2 linked regions of the Homo sapiens genome follow. The protein of the gene in region 1 purifies or fractionates together with the protein of each later gene. This does not show direct contact. Each region holds a gene or a part of one and is shown in the gene's direction. Other genes may lie near its edges.

The links. Proteins that work in one complex are often made in the same cells at the same time.
Region 2: the proteins of SMURF2 (region 1) and ARHGAP5 purify together in Homo sapiens (affinity purification with mass spectrometry; 2 studies listed by BioGRID and IntAct, with this or other methods). This does not show direct contact.

What each region holds. Positions count from the first base shown.
Region 1 is NC_000017.11:64,554,308-64,557,807, reverse strand, and holds part of SMURF2 (E3 ubiquitin-protein ligase SMURF2), read left to right. Parts: intron 1-85; coding exon 86-200; intron 201-1,809; coding exon 1,810-1,988; intron 1,989-2,814; coding exon 2,815-2,952; intron 2,953-3,500. UniProt on the Homo sapiens protein: E3 ubiquitin-protein ligase which accepts ubiquitin from an E2 ubiquitin-conjugating enzyme in the form of a thioester and then directly transfers the ubiquitin to targeted substrates.
Region 2 is NC_000014.9:32,150,304-32,153,803, forward strand, and holds part of ARHGAP5 (rho GTPase-activating protein 5), read left to right. Parts: intron 1-2,119; coding exon 2,120-2,225; intron 2,226-3,500. UniProt on the Homo sapiens protein: GTPase-activating protein for Rho family members.

The sequences.
Region 1 (3,500 bases):
TTGCTAAAATGATTAGTTAATGACATATCTTAATAAAAATGTATACATTAACAAAAAAATTCCTTGGTCATATCTTGTTTTCTAGGGAATGGTTGTATCTCTTGTCACATGAAATGTTGAATCCATACTATGGCCTCTTCCAGTATTCAAGAGATGATATTTATACATTGCAGATCAATCCTGATTCTGCAGTTAATCCGGTATGATTTGAAGTTATGATGTGAATTGTGACCAATAATGCTTTTCATGTTTACATGTTAATGTAGTTTATTATATAGAAATTATTTGTCCTTGTCTTAGTTGTGCCCTTTGACTCAGCAATTCCCCTTCTATAAAATTTTCCCAAGCAGATGATTATGGATATATGCACCAATTTGGAAACAGGGATGTTTATTGTTTATAGTAGCACTCAACTGAAAACAACATAGTTGTCTTCAGGAGCGGGGACTGATTAAATTATGACATGAAGCAGAATAATGCAAATGATTAAAGGCATAGGTTCTGGAATTAGAAAGACGTGTCGTGGTCTCATCACTTACTAGCTTTGTGACCTTTCAGGGCAAGTTCATGGACTTAAGCTTCAGTTTTGTCATTGCTAATAAATACATTTGTACCTCAAAGAGGGGTTATGAGAATGAAATGGGACCCTGCACATTAAGCACTTAGCACAGTGCTGTATGTTATTCACTCTACAACTCTATCAACTACATTACTAAGCACTCAACAGAAGTTAGCAGTTATTACTAATGTATTGTTTTTATATTGTCTTTCCATATAAGGGCATACTATACAGCCACTAAAATGATAATGTGGGATAATAGTTAATGATATGGAAAGATGGTGTTTATGATGTGTTAAGTGAAACGAAGGTTATCAAATAGTATAATGCAACTTTGGTAAATATATATGTTTGTGTGCGTGCGCGTGTGTTACTTTTAAAAAAGAAACAAAAACAAGATAAAAGGTTTAAAGACGAGCTTAAAAGATTACTTAGTAAATAGAGAGGTAAAAGAATTTAAAAATACAAACATCTAACAAAACAATCTGTGACGAAAGACCAAATATATATAAAAGGGTAGAAATGTTAGATTTGTTTCAAGAAGTTATTTAGGGAGGATTTTGAGGTGAAGGTTCTTTTTGGAGGGCCCACTACTGCCCCTGTAGTAACAATAGCCCAGACTCATTGACTGCTTATAACATGCCAGGTCCAGTTCCATGGGTTTCAAACATCACCTCATTTTACTCCTCATAGAGATGCTTTTTAGATACTGTTATTATCCTCATATTTCCAGATGTGGACAGTTAGTCTTACGGGGGTTAATTTGTCCATATGCCATTGACTGGCAGAATCGTGATTCTAATTCAAGTCTGACACCAAGTCTGTGCTCTTAAATCTATGGTGTTTTGATGTTTAATTTCTGGTTAGGTCAAGGAAGTAGGGAGGTTTAGGATTGAAAGATTTTTTTTCATGACAAAGGGCTCAGCAGGAGGTGAGAGAAGGAAGAGAAAAGGATCTGCAAGTAGTTGAATGAAGCTCCGGGACCATAGTTTGGACTTAATTTCTAAAAGATAAAATTTACAAAATGACTGGCCCCTGCGAGAAGGGCATATTACCCTGTGTAATATGCTGTTCTCTGGTGATCTAGAGACTCTGGAGCATGCCCTAGAGAAATACTCCCTCCTGACTCTATTGAAGAGTAAAAATTTTATGCTTATTCTCAAAAAGATTAATGTTGCTGAAATATTTCATTTTTATTAAAATTTTCCTGGGTAGTGCCTAACGAGTATATATACTGTTTTCAATTTCAGGAACATTTATCCTATTTCCACTTTGTTGGACGAATAATGGGAATGGCTGTGTTTCATGGACATTATATTGATGGTGGTTTCACATTGCCTTTTTATAAGCAATTGCTTGGGAAGTCAATTACCTTGGATGACATGGAGTTAGTAGATCCGGATCTTCACAACAGTTTAGTGTGGATACTGTATGTATTGAGTCTTCTATCTCTTCATTATAAACTCTGAGCTTTAAAAAAAAATATGTTTCAAAACTGATGTACTTAAAAAAATTACACAGAAAATATTGAGTGGTTATTTGAGTGATAGGATCGCATATGATTTCCCCCTTTCCTGTAGCTTCTTTATACATTTCAAATTCCTTAAACTTAGCAAGTGTTACTACTTTAAAAAGGAAAAAACAACTAGTATATTTCTATTTTTAAAAGTACTTTATATAATTGTTTCCTCAATGTGATACAAATTCTGTTCCAAACCTGCGTGTGTTAGAATAGCAAATTCTTGGCTGCTGTTGCTTTTAATGAAGTGGCGATTGTTGGAACCGTACTTTTAGAATAAGAACTAATTGTTGAATTTAAGCTAAGAACTGATTCTGTTTTGCAAGAGGTCATTATTTTGTGAAGATACACTGGCAATGTTTATTTTTTATAAAGTATACAGTAGCTTTCTCACTAGGGATACACAGGCACTTGGCCCCTTGGAGTACAGTACCGAGTAGGGCTCTTCAGAATGCCAAATGTAACTGAAATTGTCCTATATTGGTGGTTCTAGCAAGGCCCAGCTTTGACCAAGGCTCTTTCTCATTACTCAGGAAGTTAAATGTTTTCTGTGTTTATGAAGGTTAAAGCTCTTTGACTTTTCTGTCCAGAAAGAACTAGGTGGTATGGAAGCAGAATCTGACCTCACATTTGTTATATTATAAAATGATCTTAGTTTTATCTCACCAATTAATACATCTATAGGGTCTGTATTTTAGGTTTCCCAGTTACATATCTTTTCCTCTTTCCTATCCAGTGAGAATGATATTACAGGTGTTTTGGACCATACCTTCTGTGTTGAACATAATGCATATGGTGAAATTATTCAGCATGAACTTAAACCAAATGGCAAAAGTATCCCTGTTAATGAAGAAAATAAAAAAGAATATGTCAGGTAAACACTCCTGTGTTCTCAAGGCTGAATTTTTTAAAATGTTCTAGAATGTTAGTATGAACAAACTTAAATATTTAGATAGTACTACTTAGTGTTACAAAATCCGCTTCAGGAGAATTTAGTGGCTTATTTAGAACAGACATTTTATTATTTCTCACAATTCCATGGGTCAGGAAATTGGGCAAAAGAACAACATGGATGACAACACTGGTGTTCCACAAGATGTCAGCTAGGCCTGCAACACCAAGATGGCCTCTTCACTCATAACTAGGATAACTCAAATGGCTGAGGGCTAGCTGGCATGGCTGTTGACTGGGGTCACTGTCTGGGGCCTTGTTCTCATTGTTGGCTGAGTTCCTTGGTTCTCCCTATGTGATATCAAAGGCCATTCCCTCTCTCCATGACCACTCCCTCTCCCCATAGCCACTCCCTCCCCCCATAGCCACTCTCTCTCCCAACAAGATAGCCAGACTTCTTATGGGGTGGCCAGCTTTCTAAAGCTCAAAAGCAGAAGCTGCTAGATCTTTTTAAGGCCTAAGCCTGGTCCT
Region 2 (3,500 bases), on another chromosome or scaffold:
TTTTAATTCAAACTTAAGGGCATTGTAAGAAAATTAAATAAATTCTTCAAATTGTAAGTCAAAGAAATTTACTTTGGCTTTGTCTTACCTGTTTTATGTTGCTGTAACAGAATACTACAGACTGCATAATTTATAAAGTAATTTATTTCTTACAGTTCTAGAGGCTGGTAAGTTCAGGGTCAAGGAGGCCTCATCAGGTGAGGGCCTTTTTGCAAAGTCATTCCATGACCGAAGGTGGAAGGGCAAGAGAGCACACTCAGAGAGTAAGAGACAAGAAGGGGGCTGAACTTACTCTTTTATCAGGAACTCATTCCCAAAATAGCTAACTCACTTCAGAGATAACAGCGTTAATCTGTTCATGAGGACAAAACCCTCATGATATAGTCACCTCTTAAAGATTCCACCTCTCAACACTGTTGCCTTGGGGATTAAGTTTCCCACACAAGAACTTTGGGGGAAACATTCAAACCATAGCAGACCATGTGTTGTAAGTCATTTTGGGAAAGAACATGATATTTATTTAGTATTTATTCCTACTTTGGCATCTTTCATTCAGATGTTTCCACTAAACAGATATTCATTTATCTGGAAAATGAGAACTAAAGTCTGTTTGGGCATCAGTTTCATCCACATGATTTCTCAGTGACAAAAAATTAGCACAGTTGCTAAATACTTCTCTCTACTATTTCCTTTTGGTTGCAAGTCTTCAGGTTATTTTAGATGAGACTACTTCGTATTGTTCTAAGTTCTCAGTGATTCTTTTTTTTAATTCTGTATATTGTCACAAGGTATAGTTGCCTTATATATACGTACTCTCAGGTAAAGTGGGAAAATGGCTTAATTGATAGCTTAGATGTTCTTATCTATTGACCATTAATAGGAACCTCAGAACATTCCTACTTAGGAAATTTTTGAGGACTGATTTAGAAGTAATGTGTAACAAATGAAATGTTGTTAGTAATTGGTTATGCTACCATAATGATGTGGTGTGCACACTGGTCTCCAAAATAAGGAAGAGGTGGAAAGCACCCTCTATCTCATTTATTTCAGGGCCACATTTTAGTTACTCTGTTTCATAATTGCATAGATTTGGAGAGTAAGTTAAATACTTAAACTGCCTGTAAAGGAAAATCTTTGATAAGCAAAATGGATTACAAGTAATTGTAGTATAGGCGAATCTATAGCCCGAGGGCCATATTTAGGCTATCGCCAGTTTTTGGCAGACTTTTAAGCTGAGAGTCGTTTTTACACCAAGAGAAAAGAAAATTTCATGACACATTAAAATTACATGAAATTCAAATTTCAGAAGTTTTATTGGAGTATAGCCACTCCCGTTTGTTACATGTTGTCTGTTACTGCTTTTGTGCTACAACACAGGGTTGAGTAAGTGTGCCCACAAAGCCTAAAATAGTTACTCTGTAGCATAAATGTTAAGAGCCTAACATATTTATAAGTAATTAGTTAATTATAAATCAGTATCTAGTTACGTAAATTGCTAACGTACCATTTCCCATTTTGTCAATGCTGGGTCACTTTGGTCTTCAGTGATTAGCTTTCCTTATAAAAAGGCTATAGTAATAAATGATGACATTAATAGAAATAGATAATGTTAGTTGAAGTGATTTCTTAATTTACATAATTTAGCAGGTTCTTTTGAACAGGGCTCTCCAACCCCTAGGCCACACAGCCTGGCTTGTTAGGAACCAGGCTGCACAGCAGAAGGTGAGGAGTTGGATAAGGGAAACCGGGCTCCACCTTCTGTCAGATTAGGTGCGGCATTAGATTCTCCTAGGAGTGGGAACCCTATTGTGAACCACGCATGCAGGGGATCTAGGTTGTGCACGTCTTATGAGAATCTAATGATAAATGTAATGCACTTGAATCATCCTGAAACCATCCCCCCACCCATCTGTGGAAAAACTGTCTTCCACAAAACTGGTCCCTGGTGCCAAAAAGGCTGGGGACTGTTGCTTTAGAACATTTTCTTTGATTTTGTTTACCTATCCTAATATGCTTTAAACACATTCTTGACTGTTATAGTAAATATAGCAGGAAGCTTTATCAAATATTTTTAAATGTGTAAGTTTTACACAGATTCTTCACTGTTTTAATTTTACAGAAATCCCGGATAAAACAGAACGTCTTCATGCCTTGAAAGAAATTGTTAAGAAATTTCATCCTGTAAACTATGATGTATTCAGATACGTGATAACACATCTAAACAGGTATTTTTATTTTTTTAGGGTTTTTTGGCAAATAAAATGCACTACACATTTCAAACATGTAAATTTTATAAATTGGATAATTATCAGATAGAAAAGGGGACTCAGACTAAACATATAGTTGAATTTTGTTTTTCTAATTTATATCTAAAAAGATATATGATTAGTTTTGTAATGTAATTATTATATAAATAGTAAGTGTGGTAAGTATATTTTCCTTTTTACCACATTCTCTGTAAAATCTTAGAATTTTAGATATGAAATGACACTCAGATAACTAACCAGATTGACCTATTTGGAGTTGGAACAGGGTTTGGTTTGAAAAATTACTAGTTCTGTGACCTTGGGTAAATGACTTATTCTTCCTAAGTCTTGATTGTCTCAACTATAAACATGAAAATAACAACACTTCACAAAGTTGTTCTGAGGACTGAATGGAACTATTTTAGTATATGTACTAATTTTTTGAAAAGTCTCCTCATAATATTTTCTACTGGCATTTTAATGAACTGTATGGTTTTTTTTGTTTTTTTTTTTTTTTAAACTAATAGTATCAACACCCAAACCAAGTACATTTCAGCTGGTACCTCCTAAAAGAGGATTCACCAATGTTTAAAGCTTACTTTTTACTAGCAATGTGGTATAAAATTGTATTAACATTTCTTATAACCTTTCCCTGAGAAAATACCATGGAAACATGGTGAAACCCCATCTCCACTAAAAATACAAAAATTAACTGGGCGTGGTGTGAGCATCTGTAATCCTAGCTACTCAGGAGGCTTGGGGCGGGAGAATTGCTTGAGCCCGGGAGGCGGAGGTTGCAATGAGCTGAGATCATGCCATTGCACTTCAGTCTGGCCAACAGAGCAAGACTCTGTCTCAAAAAAAAAAAAAAAAAAAAAAAAAAAAAAAAAAAAAAAAGATTGTTTTATGGAATGCTAGCAGCCAGGTTTTTTTTTTTTTTTTGAGATGGAGTCTTGCTCTGTCGCCAGGCTGGAGTTCAGTGGCATGATCTCAGCTCACTGCAACCTCCGCCTCCTGGGTTCAAGCAGTTCTCTTGCCTCAGCCTCCCGAGTAGCTGGGATTACAGATGTACACCACCACACCCAGCTAAATTTAGTATTTTTAGTAGAGACAGGGTTTCATCATGTTGGCCAAGATAGTCTTGATCTCTTGACCTTGTGATCCGCCTACCTCGGCCTCCCAAAGAGCTGGGGTTACAGGCGTGATCTACCGCACCTGCTGCAACCAGGTTTTCTGAAAGTTAAAAATTCTCAG